Linked DNA regions of Homo sapiens. The main gene of each other region encodes a partner of the protein of the gene in region 3 in a complex. Each region holds a gene or a part of one and is shown on either strand. Other genes may lie near its edges. A codon is read from its position in the direction of its gene.

Region 1 (7,689 bases), on a different chromosome or scaffold from region 3:
CGGCTCACTCTGAAAGTCAAGTCTGGGGCGTCCTGGTACCCTTTCACCCCATGCTGAGCTGCTGCCCTCAGGAAGCACTGTACATCACACGCCTGTTCTCTCCACTTCTCCTTTCCTTCCCTGGCTGGGAGAGGGACAACTGTCCCAGCGATGCCTAAATACAGGGAGTGGGATGTAGAAGGCTCGCCTGAGGGTGAACCCAGGGACTGCACCCATGCTTGCTTCCCTGGGGTATGCACCCTGGGGAGACCCTGGGGAGGCATGGTGCTCTGTCAAGGGAGCTAGAGTGGCCTGCAAGGGGCCTTGGCAGTGAGGGGCTCCAGCTGCGAGCCTGAAGGTGCGTGTCCTGGGGCGGCACTCACCCCCCGACTCCAGTCTTGGGCCAGACACCCCTGCCCACTCCCGGGATGCCAGTGGCTTGGCGGCAGCCTGAGTGGTGAGCTGGCACACCCCCATCTCCCCATCCCGAATGTGGCCTCCAGCACAGAGACAACTGGCCTAGGAAGGAAGAGCATGCAAACAGCTCCAGGCAGGATGGAAGTGGGGACCCCTGCATGAGCCCCCTTCACTTCCCCAAGCATGAGGATGCACTGGCTTCTTTAGGGAAGGAAGGTATGAGTGTGTTCAAAGGCACAGATGCAGGGCCCAGACGTCCCCCACAGGGTAATGGCTGCAGCCCCGGGGGGAATGGCTGCAGCCCCGGGAGAGGCTGGGGCAGGGCAGGGCCGGCCACAGTGCCTCTGCTCCAAACAGAATGACGATCTGTCCCAGACCCCTGGTGAATTCCTAATAAGCAAGTGAACTCGTGAGTTAAAAAGTGAAGCCCTAAAAACATGGGCCTCAGTTTGCTACAGTCAATCCTCCACCTCAGCTATCCAGGGAAGTCAGAACCATTCTCCTGCCTGACCTAAAAGCTCTTCTTTCCAGCACCACCGGGCCCCAGAGTCCACCTCTTCCCCTTCGTCAGAGCCCCAGAGGGCAGAGCTGCTCCCACATGGGCTCAGAGGGGACCCACCAGAAGCGGGGCCTGTGAGGTGGCAGCCACTCAGTCATTCTGGAATTAAACAAGTGTTTTCAACGGAACTGGAGCCTGAGATTGACCACATGGCAGAGCTAAGTGTAAATACTGCTGAGAAAATTAATATCATATGTATTTTATTACATTTACTCTTCATTAAGAGGAAGCCACCTACAAAAACATAAAGGACATTTATATTTGACCTAGTTTTAACAAGTATTTAAATATTCAAACAACCCCAGAGTGGGAGAACTTTGACTTCACTGGAGTCAAAATGTAAAAAGCAAAGGTCACCCCAAATGCCATCTGGATAGGGCAGGTTTCCCTGGAGTCTGACCACAGCAAGCAGAGTGCAGACTTCCATAGAGGCCGCGACCATGGTTCCTGACGGTTCCATCCCACTTCCCGCCAGTGTCTGGCACTGAGCCTCCACCCTCATCTGTAAAGGGAGGGTGGTCACCTCCAGGACCAGGCCAGTATCAGAGACAGCCTCTTTACAGAGCCTTCAGCTCTAGTCATCTTCCACTGGGATGTAACATAGAGGCCGACAGTGCACACCAAGGGCTTCGGAAAGGTTCTCTTTTTATGAACACTGGAGAATGCGACTACAGACCCTCCCGAGAAGGAATGGCCAGTGCACCTGAATGCAGGGTGCATACCCCAGGACTGAGACTGGAGGGAGGCACACCCCAGCATGGCAATGGGGGAGACTAAAGCCCACCCAAGGCTGGATAAGGAGGGGTGGGCGCGCATGGTGGGGGAGGCGCAATGCAGAGAAGTGGGCGCACACCGTGGGGCGTGATAGGGAGGGGTGGGCACACACTATAGGGGGCGTGATGGGGAGGGGTGGGCGCACATCGTGGAGGGGGTGATGGGGAGGGGTGGACGCACACTGGGGGTGTGATGGAAAGGGGGACGCGATGGATAGGGGTGGGCGCACACTGGGGGACGCGACGGGGAGGGGTGAGCACACACTGGGGGTGTGATGGAGAGGGCGACGCAATAGGGAGGGGTGGGCGCACACCAGGGACGCGATGATGGGGACGGGTGGGCGCACACCAGGTGGCATGATGGGGAGGAGTGGGTACACACCATGGGGGGCGTGATGGGGAGGCGTGGGCGTACACCGGGGGGCGCGATGGGGAGGGGTGGGCGCACACCGGGGGACGCGATGGAGGCGGTGGGTGCACACGGGGCGCGATGGGTGGGAGTAGGTGCACACTGAGGGCACGATTGGGGAGACACGAAGGAGAGGGGTGGGCGCACACTGGGGGACGCGATGGCCGGGACACGATGCGGAGAAGTGGGTGAATACCGGGGTCGCGATGGGCGCCCTGGAAGGACGGCAGTGCTGCTCACAGGGGCCAGGCCCCTCAGAGCGCGCCCCTTGGGGGTAACCCCAGACGCTTGTTCCCGAGCCGACTCCGTGCACTCGACACAGGATCCCGCACCCAGGGCGATGCCGGGGGAGAGGGCGACCCCAACCAGCAATGACTCAGGAGAGGAGCACGCAAAGACGCTTCGGGGACACTGCTGGGGCGGGATCCGAGGGCGCCGCGCTCTGCAGGAGCAGCAGCGCGGGGCCCGACACCGGGCGCTCAAGGAGGCGCTGGGCGCGCGCCTTCCCAGCTGGGGAGGAGACGGGCGTGGAGCGGAGGCGTGGCCAGGCCCGGAGGGGGCGGAGCTCGCGGCACAGCGCGCTTCGCGGGGGCAGAGGGGGCGCACCTTGGGCGGGCCCACTTAGGGGCGGGGCTCTAGAGGGCGGGGAGGGGCGGAGCCTGTCAGGGGCGGGACGCGGGGCGGAGTCGGGGTGGGGGCGGAGCCGGGCTGGGGGCGGGACGCCCGCGATAGACGCGCGTGCAGGCGGGGTCGCCGCGCTTACCTTGGGCTTCTCCTCGGACATGGCTGCGCGAGCGGCGCGGGGAGGCGGCGCGGGGGAAGCAGCGCGGAGCGGGCGAGTCACGCTCTCGGCCCCGCCGCTCTCCCGCCGCAACTGTGCGCGGGGCCGCGCTTTATCCCCCAAATCCCGGCGCACCCGTTGGCCGGCACGGGGGTCACGTGGCTGCGCGCGTTCACGAGGCGCGCTCCCCGGGGCGTCGGGCGCGCGCAGGCCGGGCCGCGGCTCTGGGCGGTTGGAGATGCGTCACGGGGCGGGTCCCGCGCGACCCCGTCGGGCGCGGAAGCCCTAGGGCGCTGTGGGGCGCGGGCCAGGAGCGTTTACGGGGAGCCCGGGCCCTGGGGACCCTTGCCCGCCTCCCCGCGTCGCCCGGGCCCCGACTCCTTTCCTGGGGGCCGCGTTCCTGGGGCGCCGGGAAGTGAGGCCGGGGCCGCCGCCCATGGCCGCAGGGACCTGGGGCGGAGGAGGGAGGACGCTGGGGGTGACGTTCCCTCTCAGGAGCCGCGGACAGAGCGGAGAAGGCGGCCCGCGGGGTCCCGTCCGCGGGGGCCGCGCGAATCGGGCCAGCACCCTAGACGATTGGGGGCGCCACCCGCCTCCCTGCCGCCGCGGTTTCCTGTCAGCCCCAGGCCGGGCTCCTTTGGCCAACGCTCCTACGGGGCTGCCCCGGGCCCTCCACACCCGTCCTCAAGAAGACCCGTTTTACCTGTGAAGAAACTGAGGCACTGGGAGGTCAAACCACCCCCAGGTCAGCGCTGGTGAGCGGCGCCGAGCTTGGCCAGGCCGCCACGTCGGCGAGCGCGGGCAAACCCAGGCTGGACGCCGCCAGTGCCGGCGGAACGGGGACCTCGTGGACGCGGGAAACGCGCTGGGCCGGCAGGACGGCCTCCCCGGACTTGCGGGCGCCATTCCTGGGGTGCCTGGCCCGCCCCGGCCTCCATGTCTGTGATCCCAGGGCCTCGGATGGAACGGACCTGAGGGCGGACACCCCTGCGTCCCTCAGGAGTGCCCGGGTGGTGCCAGCCGGGGCGTGGCGGAGGTCTCATCTGATGGTGAGCCCGGCCGAAGGCGGGGGAGGCCGCACTTCAGGCTCAGCTGGGAAATGGCAGGGCCTGGATTTGAACCTAAGCGTCTGAGCCGTTTCTGTCCTGCCTGGGAAAGGCTCAGCCAACTGAGCAACGTCGCAAAGCCATGGAGACAAGTCTTCATGGACCATAACTTCACAAACCGTCTTCTACTCAAAAATTCACTTTCTTGGCTAGAGCCCCCACTTAGGAGGGGGAAGGCTGCTGAAGTCTTTCGGGGAGAGGGTCTGAGAGTCAGCCCCAGTCCCAGGCAGGTCATAAGGTGTGGTCCCTTCCTTCTGGAACCTGGAGCCCAGGGCCTCAGCAGAGGATGTGGAGGTGGGTGGCCAGCTCAGACGGTCCTGGGAGGGGGCTCCGCAACCAGCCCCTTCCGAGGGGACGTGGCGCCTCAGAGCCCACAGATTGCTGGCCCTGGAAGTGCCCTAGGGCAGGCAGGGTTCAGAGAGTTATCGACTCCAAGACACCGTTAATCATAAAACAACACGACCGTAGGTAGCACAGACACACTAAACTCCGGCAGGCTGTGGATGACGGCAGCCCGCTTCAGTGTTGTGGAAGTGAGAAACACGCAGCTTAGAAATCATGAGACACAGAACCCAAATGTGTTACCGCTCGAAATTACGCCAGTTGCTGTGTCACGAAGTGATGCGTGACTACAGTCATGGATAAGGGAAAAAGAGGCTCAGATGACATTAGGTTTTAAAAAGCCAGGCTATAAGACAATGGTGGTCTGAATTCAATTCATGCTGTGTCTGTCTCCCACACTGTGACCTGCCCCGAATCCTTCATGTGACAGCAAAGATGCAAAAAGGCTCTGTCGCAGCTGTGGGGACACAAAGGACACCGCTGGTGGACCGAACGCCAAGAGGTTTCTGAAGGACACAGCCAAAGGGGATCGAATGGACGGAGGAACCAGAGCTCAGGAAAAACCGTGGCCTACCACGAGCACAGGGTAAAGAACCCAAATGGCCAGAGCCCCTCCGGAGGGTCGCCACACCTGGCGATGGTCCCAACAAGAAGACTCATGAGAAGGCAGGGAACTGGCAAATGAGTAACAGCATTGCTGACATGAAAGCTCGACCCACATGTGACTAGGAGAGGGGTCCTGGCTGAGGACGCAAAGAACTGCGAGACAAAGTCACAGGACTCTCCCATGATGGAGAAGTTAAGAGAGGAAAGGTCAGGGCTGGGCTGGGTGGCTCATGCCTGTAATCCCAGCACTTTGGGATGCTGAGGCTGGTGGATTACAAGGTCAGGAGTTCGAGACCAGCCTGGTCAACATGGTGAAACCCCGTCTCCACAAAAAAATTAGCCGGGCCTGGTGGCGCATGCCTGTAATCCCAGCTGCTTGGGAGGCTGAGGCAGGAGAATCGCTTAAACCCAGGAGGCAGAGGTTGCAGTGAGCTAAGATCGTGCCGCTGCACTCCAGCCTGGGCAACAGGGTGAGACTCCATTTCAAAAAAAAAGAAAAGAGAGAGGGAAGGTTGGAAGGCCGAGACACCGGGCATCAGTACAGGAAGGGCTACGTCCACCTGACAGGAGCTGCAGGAGAAGGTGGAAAAAAGGAAACCAGGACAAAATCAAAGACAGAATTGGAGAAAATATCTCTGAGGCCAGGCACGGTGGCTCACGCTTGTAATCCCAGCACTTTGGGAGGCTGAGGCAGGCGGATCACCTGAGGTCAGGAGTTTGAGACCAGCCTGAGCAACATGGTGAAACCCCATCTCTACTAAAAATACAAGAATTAGCTGAGTGTGGTTGTGTGTGCCTGTAATTCTGGCTCCTTGGAAGCCTGAGGCTGGAGAATCAGCTTGAACTCAGGAGGCAGAAGCTGCAGTGAGCCAAGGTCGCACCACTGCACTCCAGCCTGGGCAACAGGGCAAGACCCTATCTCAAAGAAAAAGTAAAAATAAGAAATTTCTCTGAACTAAAGAAATATTTGACTCCATAAATGGAAAGGGCCCCTGAGTATCCAATGGCTGAGTGAGAAGACTGACACAGATGCTTGGCATGTGAGGAGAAATCCCTGAGGCGTTCAGAGACGTTTCTACTTACAGTTAGGGAGGACTGGTTGCCTCAGACAAACCCAACAAAAATAGCCCAAAAATCAGTATAAAATATTCTTTAAATCTGTTTAAGGCTATCAGCTACCAAAAGAAGTCTTTCTGTGAGGGGCAAAGACCTTCCCCCACCTCAAAAAGAAAAGGGAAGAGTTTTTTTCCTTTGAGGCACTTGGTGATTAGTATCCTGTGTTAGCCTAGACTTCCATAAAAACATACAGACCGGGGGCCGGACGCGGTGGCTCACGCCGGTAATCCCAGCACTTTGAGAGGCTGAGCCAGGCAGATCACCTGAGGTCAGGAGTTTGAGACCAGCCTGAACAACATGGAGGAACCCCATCTCTACTAAAAATACAAAATCAGCCGGGCATGGTGGCGCATGCCTGTAATCCCAGCTACTCGGGAGGCTGAGGCAGGAGAATCGCTTGAACCTGGGAGGCGGAGGTTGTGGTGAGCCAAGATAGCACCATTGCACTGCAGCCTGGGCAACAAGAGTGAAACTCTGTCTCAAAAAAAAATAAATAAATAATACAGACTGGGCAGCTTAAACCATTGATAGTTATTTCCCAGCCTCCAGACAGTTCTAGAGACTGGAAGCCCAAAATCAGTGAGCCATCAGGGTTGGTGTCCGGTCAAGCCTCTCCTCCCAACTTGTATGCAGCCAACTTGGCGTGTTCTCACAATGGCCTTTCTGCTGTGTCTGCAGAGAGGGAGAGATCTCTGGTGTATCTTCCTCCTTTTGCAAAGACACCAGTCCTCTGGGATTAGGGCCCCACCCTTATCACCTCAGTTAACCTTAATCACCTCTTTAAAGGTTCTGTCTCCAAATGAAATCACATTGGAGGTCAGGGCTTCAACATGTGAATGCTGGGGGGACACAATTCAGTCTCACATATGCAGTGGAAAGAAGTTGACACACTGAGCAGAGCTTTTGCATCTCCTAGGGTTGGGGAGACAATAATTGGTGACAGCCCACAAGATAGGGAGACTCTGATGAGTGACCCAGACCTTCAGCTGAGAGCACTGAGGGCTGCAATAGGGGAGGAAGGCTGAGGGGTGAGTAGATCGTCCCTCTCAAAGTCTGAAACCAAGCTTCCAAAGGGCTGACTCCCAGACTAAGTTGATCTGCTCTCTTTCCCACAGCCAGCCCAAAGCAAAAGGAAATATGCAGAGGTAAATAGCATCATCCAGGGCCTCAAATTAACTAAAATATTTCCATATACAATATCCAGATTTAAAGTTTACAAAGAAAACCAGGAGACAAATGATCCAAAACCAAAAAATATATATATAAATAAAGTAGGAATAATTCCATGGGATTATCATGTCAACAGGATATTGACATTATCATACACTTTAAGGTAATGTGATTAATATGTTCAAGAAAATAGATTATGAGATGGAAATGTTCAGCAGAGAAGTGGGGTATATAAAAAACAATTTAATGGAAATTAAAAAAACAATAGCTGAAGTTATAAATTCAATGGATGGGTTTGAAACAGATTAGACACAGTGAAAGAGATGATTAATGAACTGAAAGATAGGTCAGAAGAAAATATTCAGGCTGGGTGCAGTGTAATCCCAGCACTTTGGGAGGCGGAGGTGGGTGGATCACCGGAGGTCAGGAGT
Region 2 (6,851 bases), on a different chromosome or scaffold from region 3:
CCATGAATAATGGAGGTACTATTTATTTTTTTTTGAGACGGAGTCTCGCTCTGTCGCCCAGACTGGAGTGCAGTGGCGTGATCTTGGCTCACTGCAAGCTCCGCCTCCCAGGTTCATGCCATTCTCCTGCCTCAACCTCCTGAGTAGCTGGGACTACAGGCACCCGCCACCACGTCCGGCTAATTTTTTGTATTTTTAGTAGAGATGGGGTTTCACTGTGTTAGCCAGGGTGGTCTCGATCTCCTGACCTCGTGATCTGCCCGCCTCGGCCTCCCAAAGTGCTGGGATTACAGGCGTGAGCCACCGCACCCGGCCTGGAGGTACTTTAAAACAGATGGGTTAGGCTGGGCGCGGTGGCTCACGTCTGTAATCCCAGCACTTTGGGAGGCCAAAGTGGGCAGATCACCTGAAGTCGGGAGTTCGAGACCAGTGTGACCAACATGGAGAAACCCCGTCTCTATTAAAAATACAAAATTAGCCAGGCACGGTGGTGCATGGCATGCCTGTAATCTCAGCTACTCAGGAGGCTGAGGCAGGAGAATCGCTTGAACCTGGCAGGCGGAGTTTGCAGTGAGCTGAGATCTTGCCATTGCACTCCAGCCTGGGCCACAAGAGCAAAATTCTGTCTGAAAAAAACAAACAAACAAATAAACAGCCGGGCGTGGTGGCTCACGCCTGTAATCCCAGCACTTTGGGGGGCCGAGACGGGCACATCACGAGGTCAGGAGATCAAGACCATCCTGGCTAACACGGTGAAACCCCATCTCTACTAGAAATACAAAAAATTAGCCGGGCGTGGTGGCATGTGCCTGTAGTTCCAGCTACTCAGGAGGCTGAGGCAGAAGAATCGCTTGAACCCGGGGGGCAGAAGTTGCAGTGAGCCGAGATCGTGCCACTCCAGCCTGGGCGACAGAGCGAGACTCCGTCTAAAACAAAACAAACAACAACAACAACAAAAAAAAACAGATGAGTTAGGAGGGTATTTCCATATTGCAGTATCTTTGTGTTTTTTTGTTTTTTTGTTTTTTTTTTTGAGACGAAGTCTTGCTCTGTTGCCCAGGCTAGAGTGCAGTGAGTGGTGTGATCTTGGCTCACTGCAACTTCTACTTACTGGGTTCAAGCGATTCTCCTGCCTCAGCCCCCTGAGTAGCTGGGAATACAGGCGCCTGCCACCATGCCTGGCTAATTTTTGTATTTTTAGTAGAGACACTGGGTTTCACCATGTTAGCCAGGCTAGTCTCAAACTCCTGACCTCAGGCAATCCATCTGCCTTGGCCTCCCAAAGTGCTGGGATTACAGGCGTGAGCCACCAGAGGGTTTCACCATGTTAGCCAGGCTGGTCTCAAACTCCTGACCTCAGGCAATCCATCCGCCTCGGCCTCCCAAAGTGCTGGGATTACAGGCGTGAGCCACCAGAGGGTTTCACCATGTTGGCTAGTCTGGTCTCAAACTCCTGACCTCAGGTGATTTGCCCGCCTCGGCCTCCCAAAGTGTTGGGATTACAGGCATGAGCCACCGTGCCCGGCTGATATTGCAGTATCTCTTGAGAGTGTTTTTTTTTTTTTTTTTTTTTAATGGAGTTTCGCTCTTGTTGCCCAGGCTGGAGTGCAATGGTGAGATCTCAGCTCACCACAACCTCCTCCTCCCGGGTTCAAGCGATTCTTCCGCCTCAGCCTCCCGAGTAGCTGGGATTACAGGCATGCGCCACCACACCCAGCTAATTTTGTATTTTCAGTAGAGACAGGGTTTCTCCATGTTGGTCAGGCTGATCTCGAACTCCTGACCTCAGGTGATCCTCCCACCTCGGCCTCCCAAAGTGCTGGGATTACAGGCATGAGCCACCATGCCCGGCCTCTTTTGAGAGTGTTGATCTGAACTAGATGGTCTTCCTGCTTTGGCCTATCACACATCTAAGGTCTTAAGCCTCTTCCTCCCCAAAGAGAACCTACAGAAGGCCAGCAAATGCAGCTCCATCCAGAGGCCAAAGAAATTAGATTTGGTAAGAAGGTGGAATAGACAAGATTTGGCCAAGATTGATTGGATGAGGAGTGTGTGAAGGAGAAGAAGTCAGGAATGTTGCTGGCCTTTCCAGCTTGGGGCAGCTGTTGTAGTGGTGTGTCACTCAGTTTAAGAGTGACAGGTCAGGAAGAAGGACCCATGTGGAAGGTAAAGTGAGGAGTTTTAGTTGAGAGTTGCTGGGTCTGAGGTGCCTCTGGGATATCCAAGTGGAGATGTTCAGAAATCAACTGGAAACTCAGAAGAAAGACGTGGACTAGAAATAATGGATTTGAGGATCATTAGCAAAGAGATGGTAATGAAAATCGGTGAAATCATCCTCGGAGAGGGAATGGAGTGATAAAAGGATCTTGAAGAAAACCCTAAGGAACAGTTAAGGGAAGGAGTGAGTAAGAAAAAAAATTGCAGAGAGAACAAAGGACAGGCTAGAGATGAGAGGAAAACCTACCTCCTGCAAAGTTCAAGAGGAGTGACAAACTGAGAAGCATACTGGATTCAGCAAAGAAGTCTGCGGTGACCTTGTGGAGAGCAGTTTTAGTGGAACTTTGGGGACAGCACCAGATTGCAGTGGGTTGAGGAGTGAGTGGGAGGGGAGGGGTTGGAGACAGCTGGCGGGGACATTTTTTCGAGCTGTTTGGCCAAGAATGGAGAGAGATAGGATGGTAACTTCATAGAATTGGGAGCTTTTTTTTTTTTTTCTATACTAACGGAGGAGAGGAAGAAAATTCAGGGACAAAAGGAAATAATAAAGCCCCGGGGGAAGAAGCGAGATGGAATCCAGTGCACACACATCGGATTGTTCTTCAGACAGGAGGGACGCATGTGTATGTTTTAACTGGATGCAACGAGGAAAGGATTAAATTGGCTGGAAGCTTGATTGTTGGGTAGTTCTCGCTTATGGATACTGTTTCCTCTTGGAAGACAGGCGATGAGTAAGGATCTCGTTGAATGAATACATGAATATTTTCCCGTAGCTAGTCAAAGTCTAGGGTTACCAGCAGGACAGAAGAAGACACTGTAGGCCGGGCGCGGTGGCTCACGCCTGTAATCCCAGCACTTTGGGAGGCCGAGGCGGGCGGATCACGAGGTCAGGAGATCGAGACCATCCTGGCTAACACGGTGAAACCCCGTCTCTACGAAAAATTAGCCGGGCGTTGTGGCGGGTACCTGTAGTCTCAGCTACTCGGGAGGCTGAGGCAGGAGAATCACTTGAACCCGGGAGGCAGAGGTTGCTGTGAGCCGAGATCGTGCCACTGCACTCCAGCCTGGGCGACTGAGCGAGACTCCGTCTCAAAAAAAAGAAGAAGAAGAAGAAGAAGAAGACACTGCATTTTAGGCAAGAGTCCGGTGGGAAGCAGGTTGAGATTGACTGAGAGGAAGTAACCATGGGAGGGCTGCTGGTCCACTGAATGAGAGAGATTTTTCCAGAACCTCATGCTGGGGCTTTGATTTAGGAATCCCCTTCCTCCTCTAGTAAGTCTGCCTTCCCTGGCCTATGGCTTACGTCTAAAGCCTCGAGCCTCATCGTTCCCACCGAGGACCAGCTGGAAGCCATTTTGATTATGCTCCACCACGAAGGAGGACAATACAGCCCCGCCCAGAGCCAGGCGCGCCCCCGCGGCGGGCCGGGTGCGCGTGTCCGCGCCTCTTCCCGCCGGCCGGGCGGGCGCCTGGCCCAGGACGCGGTGGCGTGGGACGGGGGGTGGGGGTGGTTATGTAAGCGTTGCGCGCTCCCGCGAGGCGCCAGCCAATGGGAGGCTTCGGCTACTCGTGCTCGCGCACGCAGGGTGGGGGGAGGGAGCGCACGACGTGCGCGCACCCTCTCCCCTCGTCCACCGCTGCCGCCTCCTTCTTCTGCCGCTCCTGGTGCTGCTTGTGTGCTCGTTTGGTGCGGACCTGGTACCTCTTTTGTGAAGCGGCAGCTGAGGAGACTCCGGCGCTCGCCATGGCCGACGAAAAGCCCAAGGTGAGCTCGCCGCCGGCCCCTTCGCCTCGCCGCGCGGTGGGGGTCATGGCGCGGGCCGGGGTCCGGCCAGAGCCCGCCGCTGGCTCCCAGCGCTTTCCCGGGCCCCCCACGGGGCCGGCCGCGGCTCAGGCCCGGGCGCTCCGCGCCATTTTCCTCCCTCCCTCTCTTCCTCCCTCCCGCGCCGAAGGAGGCCCCGCCGCTCTCTCCCGCCCCCGGCGGCCTCCGAGTGCGCGCCGGGCGCGAGTTGGGCGGGCAGAAAGCGGACGCCCGCGGACCCACCAGCCCCGAACGGGGATTCTTGGCCCAGCCGGCCGGCGCGCGTGAGGAGGGGCGTTAGGGCGCGCGGGGTCTCCACCTTCTGTCGACCCCGCGTCGGGTGTTGCAGTCTCCGAGGCGGCGAGGAGTCCTCTGGGCTCGGGCTTCACCTCTCGGGTAGGAACCGCGGGCATCTGGGGACCCCTGCCTGGGGCCGCGGCGGCGGGGCGAGGGTTCGGGGCGAATCAATGGGCTGCGGACGGGCAGGAACCTGGATGCCCGCGGGCCGCCGTCCTGGGCCTGGGGGTAGGGGGATTCCCGTGGAGTATTTCCCACTTTAATAGCCTCAGGGGCCCGAAGGGGGAGGGGCAGCGGCTTTTCCCTGGGTGCCAACGAACCCCTAATCCGCGAACACCATGTGGTTTCATGAAGTTGGAGGCACAGGTACGAGCAGAGAGACTTTGTGCGGCTTAACTTTTGAACGCGGCTTTTGAGGCACCCGGAGACTTCCCGGGAGGACTTGGGGACACCCATCATCGGGGCACACGGGACTTGCTGCTTTTAGTTTGGTGGCACCCCCCGCCTCCCGCGCCTTTACTTTCTGGAGCGTTTTAGGGCTACAGAATTGCTTCTGCACTCGATTTTGGACAACTTTAGGTTGGGTCGAAATCTACAAGAAACAAATCAGGATAAAACTGTGTATTTGACCCATGACAACAAAGGGGGGGAGGGGAGAATAAGTGCTCTTAACCGAAAATAAAAATGAAGCTGCTAATAGAGGAGAACGTTAACTGTGGTCCTGACTGAGTATTACCGCTGTTCCGGGGGGAATCGGGATATTCTTCGATTGTTTTTTTTGTTTGTGTGTTTCCTTTAATGGAGATTGGATTTAGGTTATTAAACTGAGTTTGGTAACTTTTTAATGACAACGGTAATGAGTTTTGAATGGCAGGCTGTAGATTTATTGTTTTGTTTCTTGCAGTTGTACTTAAAGTGCTTAGAAAAGAGAAGGGACTCTATTTTTAACTTTTTTGGGGGGTAAAGTATTTTGGGAGTGATATATGTCATTTTAGGAAGTTTAACTTCAAGAGAACGTTGCAATACACTGAATAGGACCCAACTTTAAACATATTGTTGCTACTGATAGTATTGCATGTAGGCTTTTCCGTATCTGACAGCTATCTAATACTGTTACTGCAGGATTTTTCCGCTTTCACATTGATTTCAGCAGCTGAAAACAGCAGTATGCCGTTTTAGCATACAGTATGAGAAACCTGTTGATTTTTGAAGCAACTAGGGCTGCTGCTGCTTTATAAAACGTGTTCGTTGATCACATTTCCCAAATTATACTTTTATTTTTCTTTTAACAGGAAGGAGTCAAGACTGAGAACAACGATCATATTAATTTGAAGGTGGCGGGGCAGGATGGTTCTGTGGTGCAGTTTAAGATTAAGAGGCATACACCACTTAGTAAACTAATGAAAGCCTATTGTGAACGACAGGTGAGGAATTCATATGTGTACTTCCACTGAATAAAACTATTTTTAAAAATCTTATTTTCATGGGAACAAAAACTAGACTAGCACATTACAGTGACTTTTTGATGGGATGAATATGCACTTGGCACGTCAGTTTTGTCGTGCACTTGGTATATTGATAGCTCGTGAAAACCCTTAGGATGATTTGGTTAGTATTATATGTGGTTCCAGTCCTGTGCCAGAAATCCATCAAATTATATTTACAATAATTTTTTTTTACCAAGGAAATGTAATTTTATGTTTATAAGAAAATAAGAGTGAACTTGGTAAAATTACTTATAAGTCTTTTATTATTTTATTTTATTTTTTTGAGATGGAGTTTCATTCTTGTTGCCCAAGCTGAAGTACAGTGGCCTGAGCTCAGCTCACTGCAACCTCCACTTCAAGCGATTTTCCTGCCTCAGTCTCCTGAGTATCTGGGATTACAGGTGCCCACTACCAGGCCTGGCCAATTTTTTTTTTGTATTTTTAGTAGAGATGGGGTTTCACCGTATTGGCTAGGCTGGTTCCAAACTCCTGACCTCAGGTGATCCGCCCGCCTCGGCCTTCCAAAGTGCTGGGATTACAAGCATGAGCCACCGCGCCAAACCAAGAAGTCGTTTTTTTTTTTTTTTTTTTTTTTTTTTTTAAGCTGGGAGTCTCACTCTATTTCTTTTAAGCTAGAACTTATCTACCTTGTAAATTGTGTTTTATTTTTGTTTTTGTTTTTGATGGAGTCTTGCTCTGTTGCCCAGGCTGGAGTGCAGTGGTGCAATCTTGGCTCACTGCAACCTCTGCCTCCTGAGTTGAGGCTATTCTTATGCCTCAGCCTCCTGAGTACCTGGGATTTCAGGCGTGCGCCACCACGCCCGGCTAATTTTGTATTTTTAGTAGACCTGACCTCAACTCCTGACCTCAAGTGATCCGCCCACCTTGGCCTCTCAGAGTGCTGGGATTACAAGCATGGGCCACTGTGCCTGGCCCCTTCAGATTGTTCTAAATAGGCTCAAAATAGAATAAGGCTTAAACCTATGTAAGTTGGGAAATTGAGTTTGAGTTTATACTTGAAAGATCAGTGAAGATAAAAACTTCCTTTA
Region 3 (7,991 bases):
TGAAGTGAAAATGATACCTATATTTATAAACCCAGCAAATTTGTGAACAGAGGGTAGTGACTGGCAACAGGACCGGTTTTCATAGCAGACTCATTTGTCAACAAATTAAATAAAACTTGTAGTAGAGGCAGCTACTATTTAAAGCAAACTATATTGACCAGAATTTGAAAGCCTAACTTTTTAGAGTCTATGTACAATTTGAAACAAATATGCCAGCATTATACTGAGAAAAACCCCAGATCCATTGTGCCACTATTTGACAGGAACAAAAGAACCAGTGAACCATATATTCCATACATTCCTATTGTTTTCAACTACCAACATTAATACTTCACCAGTTGGGAAAAATACTACTTATTAAAAGCTGCTAACAAATTATTATTTGTAAATGATCTAATTTACACCACATTTAACTTATTTTGTTATCTGAACAAAAATATAAACACTGTCCTAGTACAAATTACATATGTGGCAAGCTTGTTTTGAGTGCAGTCCTATGGTGCAGAACCACATTTAACAGAGTAAAAATTACAAGAGACCGGAGCTCAGTGTAAGCAAAAAATAATTAAGAGCATTTTAATTGTGGGTTCACAATGATAGGAAAATCAAATACAGGAGACCTTTAGGGCAGAGGAGAATTACCACTTAGCAGAAATGTTGTAAAATAATTCTAGGCATAAGTCTTTCCCAAATCCAAGAATCCATGATTCTATGACACCCATCTCCTGGGAATCGATGGCTCACAATTCACTTTAAAATCTAATTACGCTATTCTGGTTCGGCTATATAAACTTCACAAACCTTTCAAGCCAAGGAATAATTTCAAAAATAAAACTGCTTTTTAAAGAAAGTATCGGCGAATCTTAATTTCCTATTCCTGAAGAAATAACCATAAGACAGAAATTTCTCAACTGCAGCACTACAAATATCTTTGACCAAATAATTGTTTGTGAAGGCTGTTCTATGCACTGACGATGTTTAGCAGCGTCACTGACCTTTACCCTCTAGATCCAACAGCCAAAAGTTTCCTGACTTGCCAAATGTCCCCTGGTAAGCAAAATCACCCCTTCTGGTGAGAACTACTGATGCTAACTTTTTTCTTTCTTTTTAGGCACAGACAACTTATTACCTTTGGCTGGTTCTATTTATAATCTACTTACAAAAGAGAACTATGTAGGAGTCAAACTTACGCTTTTCAGGCTTTGTACCTGCAGATGTTGGTCCAGACACTTACTTGTAAAATTAGTTTCTTCTAAGAATTAAATGAGATAAAGCATGTAAAAAGTTTAGCACCTGACAAATTAAAGTTACTATTTGGTGCTAATTTTATACTTCATTCTGCGTAGAGAAGCAGTACACGTCGTATCATTCTGCGGTACTCTCAAATGGGAAACTAGTAGGCTATGTACCTTGAATAAACTGTTTTTGATGAAAATTTCCATCTACCTGAGGGAACCTAGAAAACTTTTTCAAATCAAACGGTTTTCTCTTTGTCTCTCTCAATTATAAAATATAAAGAGTCTCCAAATCTGCTCTCCTGATTCCATCACCCAACATTTCAGCGGGAAAAACCAGATAGGTTGGTGGTTGAAATCCCGAATATATAGAATCCCCCAAAAGAAAATTCATTTAATACCAGAGGTTTATTTGTCCATATGAGGGACATAAAAAAAATACCAGAGGTGGGCTCCCCAGTTCTTCTTCCAAATACAATTCACTTTGACTTACATACAAAATCCCGGGGGGGATTTTACAACTTAATTTGACCCTAAGTAACTGCTCTTCCTCCCTTCAAAAACAATCTGCTCCTCCTTCCCATATCTCACTTAAATGTGGGCGTCTCCATCCTTCCAAACACACAGACTAGAAAGTCTTGAGTTGTTCCCTATTCTTTATTTCCCTCTTCGCACAGTAAGTCACCAAATTCTGTGGACAGTTCTTTGGAAAGGTCTCAAATCTCTACCTCTTTCCCTTCCATATCACTGTCAAAATGATGCCTCTACAAGTCTGAGCCTGTCAATGCTTAGTTTAAAATTCTCTATTTACTCTAGCCTGATTACAGCAAACTCCGTCCAAACAGCCCAATATAACCTAAAGGTAGTATTATGACCTAAAGCTCATTGTACTGTGAAACCAACCTAGCTTTCCAGTTCTGTCTTCCTCAACTCTACTTCACCCCCAGCATCTTTCTTCTAACATCCCCTTTTCATACTTCTGTGAACCACTTATACTCCAGAAGCCTTAATGTGAATTATTAGCCCAGCATGAACCCAGTTAGATAGCACAATGAACGTGTCAAGGTGGCCCTGGGAATCGCAAAAAGTATTCAATTAAACTTAATTCACACTCCTGTGTGCAAAATGGAGAAACCCAGGGAAACAGCTGTTCGAAGAGGGGGCCTTAAACCCACCCATTTGAGCTCGCCCTCCGAGAGCGAGTAGGCTCGGCACGTGAACTGTCAAAAGCGAGGCCACAACCGACCTGGAAGCCGAGGAACAGGGTCAGCTTTCTGCACCCAGCCCTGTCAGGTACCAAACCCAACTGTCTTGAATCAGAGACGAACAGGACCAAAGGAGGTGAGTTTCAACACCCAAACTAAGAAGCCGAAGGAGGCGCAGGGTCCGTTAACCCTGCCCATCTCCACGCTCCTTGGAAAACGAAAACAAACTCTGGTTTCTCTTCAGCGTTCACCTCTCTGCGCCCAAACGGATCTGTAAGTCCAACTCTATACCTTAATCATCAACCTTTCCCACTTGAACCCCGTCCCAGCCCAGCCCATCCTTTCAGCGCGCCGACTACCCCATAGGTCATCCCAGCTCTGTCTCTTTTCCCAATTTCGAGAGCGGAAAGAAACCCCTCCCTCTTCTCCCTTACCTGCCGCGGGCACTCCCCTTCTTGGTACCGGGTCGATCGGAACTCCTGTTCCAGCTTGATCTCCACCCTAGTTGCAACGTTCAACCCACGTTCCCCTCGGACTGCTCCTCCCCCACTCGCGTCTCCACTAGGAAGGCGGCTTCCGGCTTGAGTCCGCGGCAAAAGAGTCCTCCTTCCTGCTGCACGCTGGGCCTGAAAGGACGGTGGCGTGGCGGGGAAGGTGAAGACGTGAGCACTTCCGGTCGCCCTCCGCAGAGGCGTGGCTGTCCGCCCTGTGGCCGCAGACGCAGTTGCGACTGCGGCGACGAGGAGGGGCGGGGCCGGTGGCTGCTGAGCCCGCCATGTGTGAGTGGCTGGGTTTGGGGAGGCGACGTTTCTGGAAGCTGCTGGAAAGCGCCCGAGTGGCGGAGGTGGCGCCAGCGGCCAGGGGGTGGGGCGTGATTAAAACTAGTGCGCGGCTTTCTGCGGAGGGATTACGCTGACGAAAGAGACCTGCTTGCGCGTCGCTGTTCCGTGGTCCGCGCGAGCGTGGTCGGGAGCCGCTGGTTCCTGGGGTGACCCGCGGAGGTGGGAGAGGGAAGGGCTTCCGAAGCCGGCGGGGGTGCCATGGACCCTCTCCGCCGGCGCGGCCTTCACAGCTGGGCCGCGCCGGGCATCCGTAGTCCGCTCTCCCAAAGCCTCGGTGGAGCTGAAGCTGCCACAGAGTGCATGTTCACAAAGGGTCATCACACACGGAGCTGCCCCTCCCTGTCTCCCTAGAGCCCATCTTCGAGGCCAGGGGCTTTTCTACCAGGATTCTGGGGTGTTTCTCCTCCTTTCCTCCCTCCCAGATCTTCTCACGGTAAGGGGAGCAGCGAAAGCGCAGGGACTTTGCATTCCACGACCCGTTCTGACTAGTCAACAGCCGATCTGTCCCTGCTGCTCTAATTCCAGCTGCCCTGCCTTGTTTTAACTTCAGAGAAAGGGGGAGTTCTCATTTGATAAGTTTAAGCCTTTGCTTTCGTAGGAAGGTCATGTGGCTTAAGGGACATCGTGACCGCGTATGCTATTTCTGCCTGTGCATTCTAAATCTTGGGGGCAGCATATTCCAGAAGTCCTTTTGGTCGATTGGTTCTGTGTCCTAGGATAACAATTTGTAGTTTCTGACCATTTCTTTACAGAAAAACCACAATTGGTATTTTGGACTGCGGGGTTTTTTAGTGGTCTCAAACTAAATGATTATATTCTGGAATAATGCTGACAATTTGGATAGGGTGGTGTGGAGGAAACAAGTCTCGTGTAGAAGAAATTATTTAGTAAAAAGGATTTTAGTTTTTGGTACTTCTGAATGCAAATGGCCAAGGAATCCAGCAGTTTGTTGGGGTTTCTCCAGACAAAAATAGGCTGGTTAGTTTGTTTACCTTTTTCTGTTGCTTTACTAGATTGTTAATGTATTTGTATATTTAAGATCTAGCTAGTTAGGTTTTTCTTTTTTATGAATTGTGATTAAAATTGGAGAAAGTAGTACTTCCTCCTGAAATAGACAAAACTCAGAGGGTTGTTTTCTTGTTCACCACTGCTACTTCCATTTTTAGAATGGAATACACTATTTGTAAAAAACAAACTTGCTGAGTATTAACTCATAAATTGAACAAAACAATTGGTTCAGTTAAAATGTAGCTAAAATTGTAAGACTGCAAAACAACATCACCAAACTGAATTGTATTTTTTAAAACGTTGTCTGCAAAGTTGAATTTTAGTCTTTCAGTGTAAATTTGGTATTTTTTCAGAAGAAAAATTAGTAACAGAAACAAAATGGAGGCGGGGCTTGAGTTGTAAAGAGAAAGGAAGGGATTTTAGTGTGTTCTGTGTTTTCGCTCTAGAGCTTTTTCCTCTTGTAAAAGGTAGTACAAGACTTATAAAGGGAAGAACTTTGGTACAGGAGATCAGCAGAGATTGACTAGAAAACCCCTTTCGTTTATATTATAGAGTAACGGTCCCAAGTTGAGAATACTGTATACATTTCTGGTTATTCCTATATATTTGAAATGCTTTTTTCTACATATCCTGGTCCCAGAGAGAGTGCAGTACCTTCCAGTGGGATTAAAGCTAATTGCGTCCATCGCTTGTCAGCAGTGTGGGACAGAAATTTTATTGACCTATTTCCAGTTATAAACTCACATGATTTAAAGGGAGGAAGCTTTTATTAAATTAATAACTAACGAACAGCTGCAGTAGTTCAGTGCTTCTGTATGATTAGGATTTTCTCTTTTTTTCTCTCATTTTAGCCACTCACGATGTCAGCTCGTGCACCTTCTACTAAGTTAGATTCCTTAACCACAATACAAGTCTTTGGCCCAAACCTGGGATATAAAAGCTACTTGCTATGATTTCTTTTTTAGTCTCATAAAAAAAAAATGAGAGTTGAAGTGACTGACTGCTTTCTAGAAGCACTCTATGAGTACAGTCTGTAATCCCACATCTCAATCTAACATTCAGAAAGCGGTGAAAACCAAAAACTTCTTAAGCTTGGCAACAAAATTCATTTGGTAGCAAAATATGACCTGAACTATTGAGAAGCTGTATATAGTCTTTATCCCATGTGTTTTGCTGAAACTATATTAATATGTTTGATTATGGGGTGCTGCCCTTGGCCCCTGGTATGTGTTATATAATGGTTTATATACCCTGTAACACTTAAAAATTGTATGAAATTCTTATTTCTAAAACACATCCAACCCTTGGGTTTTAGTTAAGGAATTGTAAACCTGTATTCATATTTTTGGCAACACGCTTGTGCTATGCATGTGTATATTTAAAAAAGTAACTTAAGACATTTTAGTTATTTCAGTAAATTCAGATGTGTTAGGATAGAAAAAAATACGTGTATCATATTGTGTGTCTGTCATATCATGCATCTATCATATTGTATACATGCAATGATAGAGGTATGCACAGCATATTTTTAAGTGTAGCCGTATAGTGATCCAAACAAGAAATTAGTAGTTTCAGGGCTTAAGGTTAATTTATACATTAGACTCTAAAATTTAGATAAAACATGACAACTCGGCCGGGCGTGGTGGCTCACACCTGTAATCCCAGCACTTTGGGAGGCTGAGGTGGGTGGATCACGAGGTCAGGAGTTCAAGACCAGCCTGGCCAAGATGGTGAAACCCCGTCTCTACTAAAAAAAAAAAAAAAAAATACAAAAATTAACCGGGCGCGGTGGGAGGCGCCTGTAAACCCAGCTACTCGGGAGGCTAAGGCAGGGAGAATTGCTTGAACCCCGGGGGTCAGAGATTGCAATGAGCTGAGATTACACCACTGCACTCCAGCCTGAGCGACAGAGCAAGACTCCATCTCAAAAAAACAAAAACAAAAACATGACAACTCGTAATGTAGCCCAAACTTACTTGGTTCTGTTTTGCCCCCAGAAAATGAGAAGATGGTGTGATAATAGTCTAAAGTTGATACTGGAATATCTGACATCTAATCCCATCTCTTCTGCTGTGTGACCTTACACAAGTCACTGAATTTTTAATAGTCTAAACTTGATATTGGAATATCTAGCATCTAATCCCATCTCTTCTGCTGTGTGACCTTATGCAAGTCACTGAATTTTTAAGGTCTCAGTTTACAGATCTATAAAATGAGAAGTTTGGAATAGATGGATCTCTTAAGGAGAGTTCCTTATAGTTTCAACATTCCATGTGCAGGTATTTGCTCTTAGAAGTACCACCTGCTTTAAAAAGTTTTTCCTACTAAGGGTGTAATCCCATTTCATCTCAAACTGCTGTCTTGCTGATCTAAACTTGTCATTTTGTTCATAGGTAACACATTCATTCACGTGGTTCAAAATTCAAAAGGTACAAAAGGATACTCAGTCATTTTCTGCCTAGGAAGCAACCAGTGCTACCAGTTTCTGGTATATTTTTCAGAAAAATTTTACACATGTAAGAACAAATAAATTACTATATATATTTTATTTTTCTTCCCTTTTTCTATGTAAATGGTACATACTATGCATAGTGATTATGTACCTTATTTGTTCACTTACCTTAAAAGTTGTTCTGTTATTATTTAAGGTATTTCCTTATTTTTATGGCTGCATAATCTTCCATTTTATAATGTACCATTATTTCATCTACCCTATCCTTTTGAACATTTAGGTGTTTTTTTTTTCCAGATCTTTATTAAAGAGCATTGTGCAATGAAGACCTTTCTACGTACATCATTCTCCACATATGTGAATATATTTGTGCCCTAGCCAATGGTACGGCTGGGTCCTGTCTACTTTGACTTATGTGTTCTCCATGCCAGTATTGTATAGTGGAGTCAACACCCTGTTGACTCTAAAGTAAGCATATGAGATAAATCACATCACCTGAATGGCTGTTTTTTCATGTGAGCCCTGAGAGCATGTATGTACATACATAATATGCATAAGTATGTATATATGAAGCAAGTAGATTATGTGTAGAGACTTTGTCCTAAACAAACAAACAAATAAATCTTTAAACACTAAAATCATGCCACTGAGCAAGATTTACAATGAGCAGCATATGAAAACAGCAATGAGTGATGTAACAACAGGTTTGTTCTTTCCAGCTCATGCTCATTCCAAGGCATGTACTCAATTAGTACTCTTAAGCTGATGTTTTTCTTTAAAATTTTTTGCCAATAATATATGGTTGAATTTATGTAGCATGCAACTTCTAGATATTCCCACTTTACCAGTAAGAAAACAATGTGTAAGGCTAGGCACAGTGGCTCACACCTCTAATCCCAGCACTTTGGGAGGCTGAGGCAAGCAGATCACTTGAGGTCAGGAGTTCGAGGGTGTGGTGGCACATGCCTGTAATCCCAGCTACTCAGGAGGATGAGGCATGAAAATGGCTTGATCCTGGGAGGTAGAGACTGCAGGGACCTGATATTGTGCCTCTGCACTCCAGCCTGGACCACAGAGACCATACTGTCAGAAAAACAAAACAGCAAAAACAAGGCCTAAAAGAAGTAACAATTTACTCAAATTTGCATTAACAAGGTGGCTGACCTGGTACTAAAACCTACATCCTCTCATTTCTAATCCAGGGCTTTTTCCAGTATATTCTCGTAATTGGACATGTAGCTCTAGCAGA

Evidence for each region. The genes of interacting proteins can lie anywhere in the genome.
Region 1: the proteins of USPL1 (region 3) and SUMO3 are in contact, whole or in part, in a crystal structure (PDB 7ZJU), measured with the Homo sapiens proteins. Residues at the interface, in NP_005791.3 of Homo sapiens: Ala234, Cys236, Trp237, Pro321, Gln322, Leu323, Arg324, Met330, Glu331, Ser332, Val334, Phe335, Leu339, Tyr368, Thr378, Thr380, His393, Phe394, Gly395, Pro396, Asn398, Arg407, His421, Val423, Tyr451, Asn454, Asn455, His456, Phe457, His493; in NP_008867.2 of Homo sapiens: Gln24, Asp25, Gly26, Ser27, Val28, Arg58, Arg60, Gly63, Gln64, Pro65, Ile66, Asn67, Asp70, Leu75, Phe86, Gln87, Gln89, Thr90, Gly91.
Region 2: the proteins of USPL1 (region 3) and SUMO2 are in contact, whole or in part, in a crystal structure (PDB 7ZJV), measured with the Homo sapiens proteins. Residues at the interface, in NP_005791.3 of Homo sapiens: Ala234, Cys236, Trp237, Gln322, Leu323, Arg324, Met330, Glu331, Ser332, Val334, Phe335, Leu339, Thr378, Thr380, His393, Gly395, Pro396, Asn398, Arg407, His421, Phe422, Val423, Glu424, Tyr451, Asn454, Asn455, His456, Phe457, His493; in NP_008868.3 of Homo sapiens: Gln25 (codon at 5,659), Asp26 (codon at 5,662), Gly27 (codon at 5,665), Ser28 (codon at 5,668), Val29 (codon at 5,671), Arg59, Arg61, Gly64, Gln65, Pro66, Ile67, Asn68, Asp71, Gln75, Leu76, Phe87, Gln88, Gln90, Thr91, Gly92.

Annotation. Positions count from the first base shown.
Region 1 is NC_000021.9:44,815,048-44,822,736, forward strand, and holds the start of SUMO3 (small ubiquitin-related modifier 3 isoform 1 precursor), read right to left. Parts: upstream 3,016-7,689; 5' UTR 2,922-3,015; coding exon 2,901-2,921; intron 1-2,900. UniProt on the Homo sapiens protein: Ubiquitin-like protein which can be covalently attached to target lysines either as a monomer or as a lysine-linked polymer. Does not seem to be involved in protein degradation and may function as an antagonist of ubiquitin in the degradation process.
Region 2 is NC_000017.11:75,179,945-75,186,795, reverse strand, and holds the start of SUMO2 (small ubiquitin-related modifier 2 isoform a precursor), read left to right. Parts: upstream 1-3,836; 5' UTR 3,837-3,961; coding exon 3,962-3,982; intron 3,983-5,607; coding exon 5,608-5,739; intron 5,740-6,851. UniProt on the Homo sapiens protein: Ubiquitin-like protein that can be covalently attached to proteins as a monomer or as a lysine-linked polymer.
Region 3 is NC_000013.11:30,612,940-30,620,930, reverse strand, and holds the start of USPL1 (SUMO-specific isopeptidase USPL1), read right to left. Parts: upstream 3,012-7,991; 5' UTR 2,875-3,011; exon of another isoform or gene 1,191-2,874; intron 1-1,190. UniProt on the Homo sapiens protein: SUMO-specific isopeptidase involved in protein desumoylation. Specifically binds SUMO proteins with a higher affinity for SUMO2 and SUMO3 which it cleaves more efficiently. Also able to process full-length SUMO proteins to their mature forms.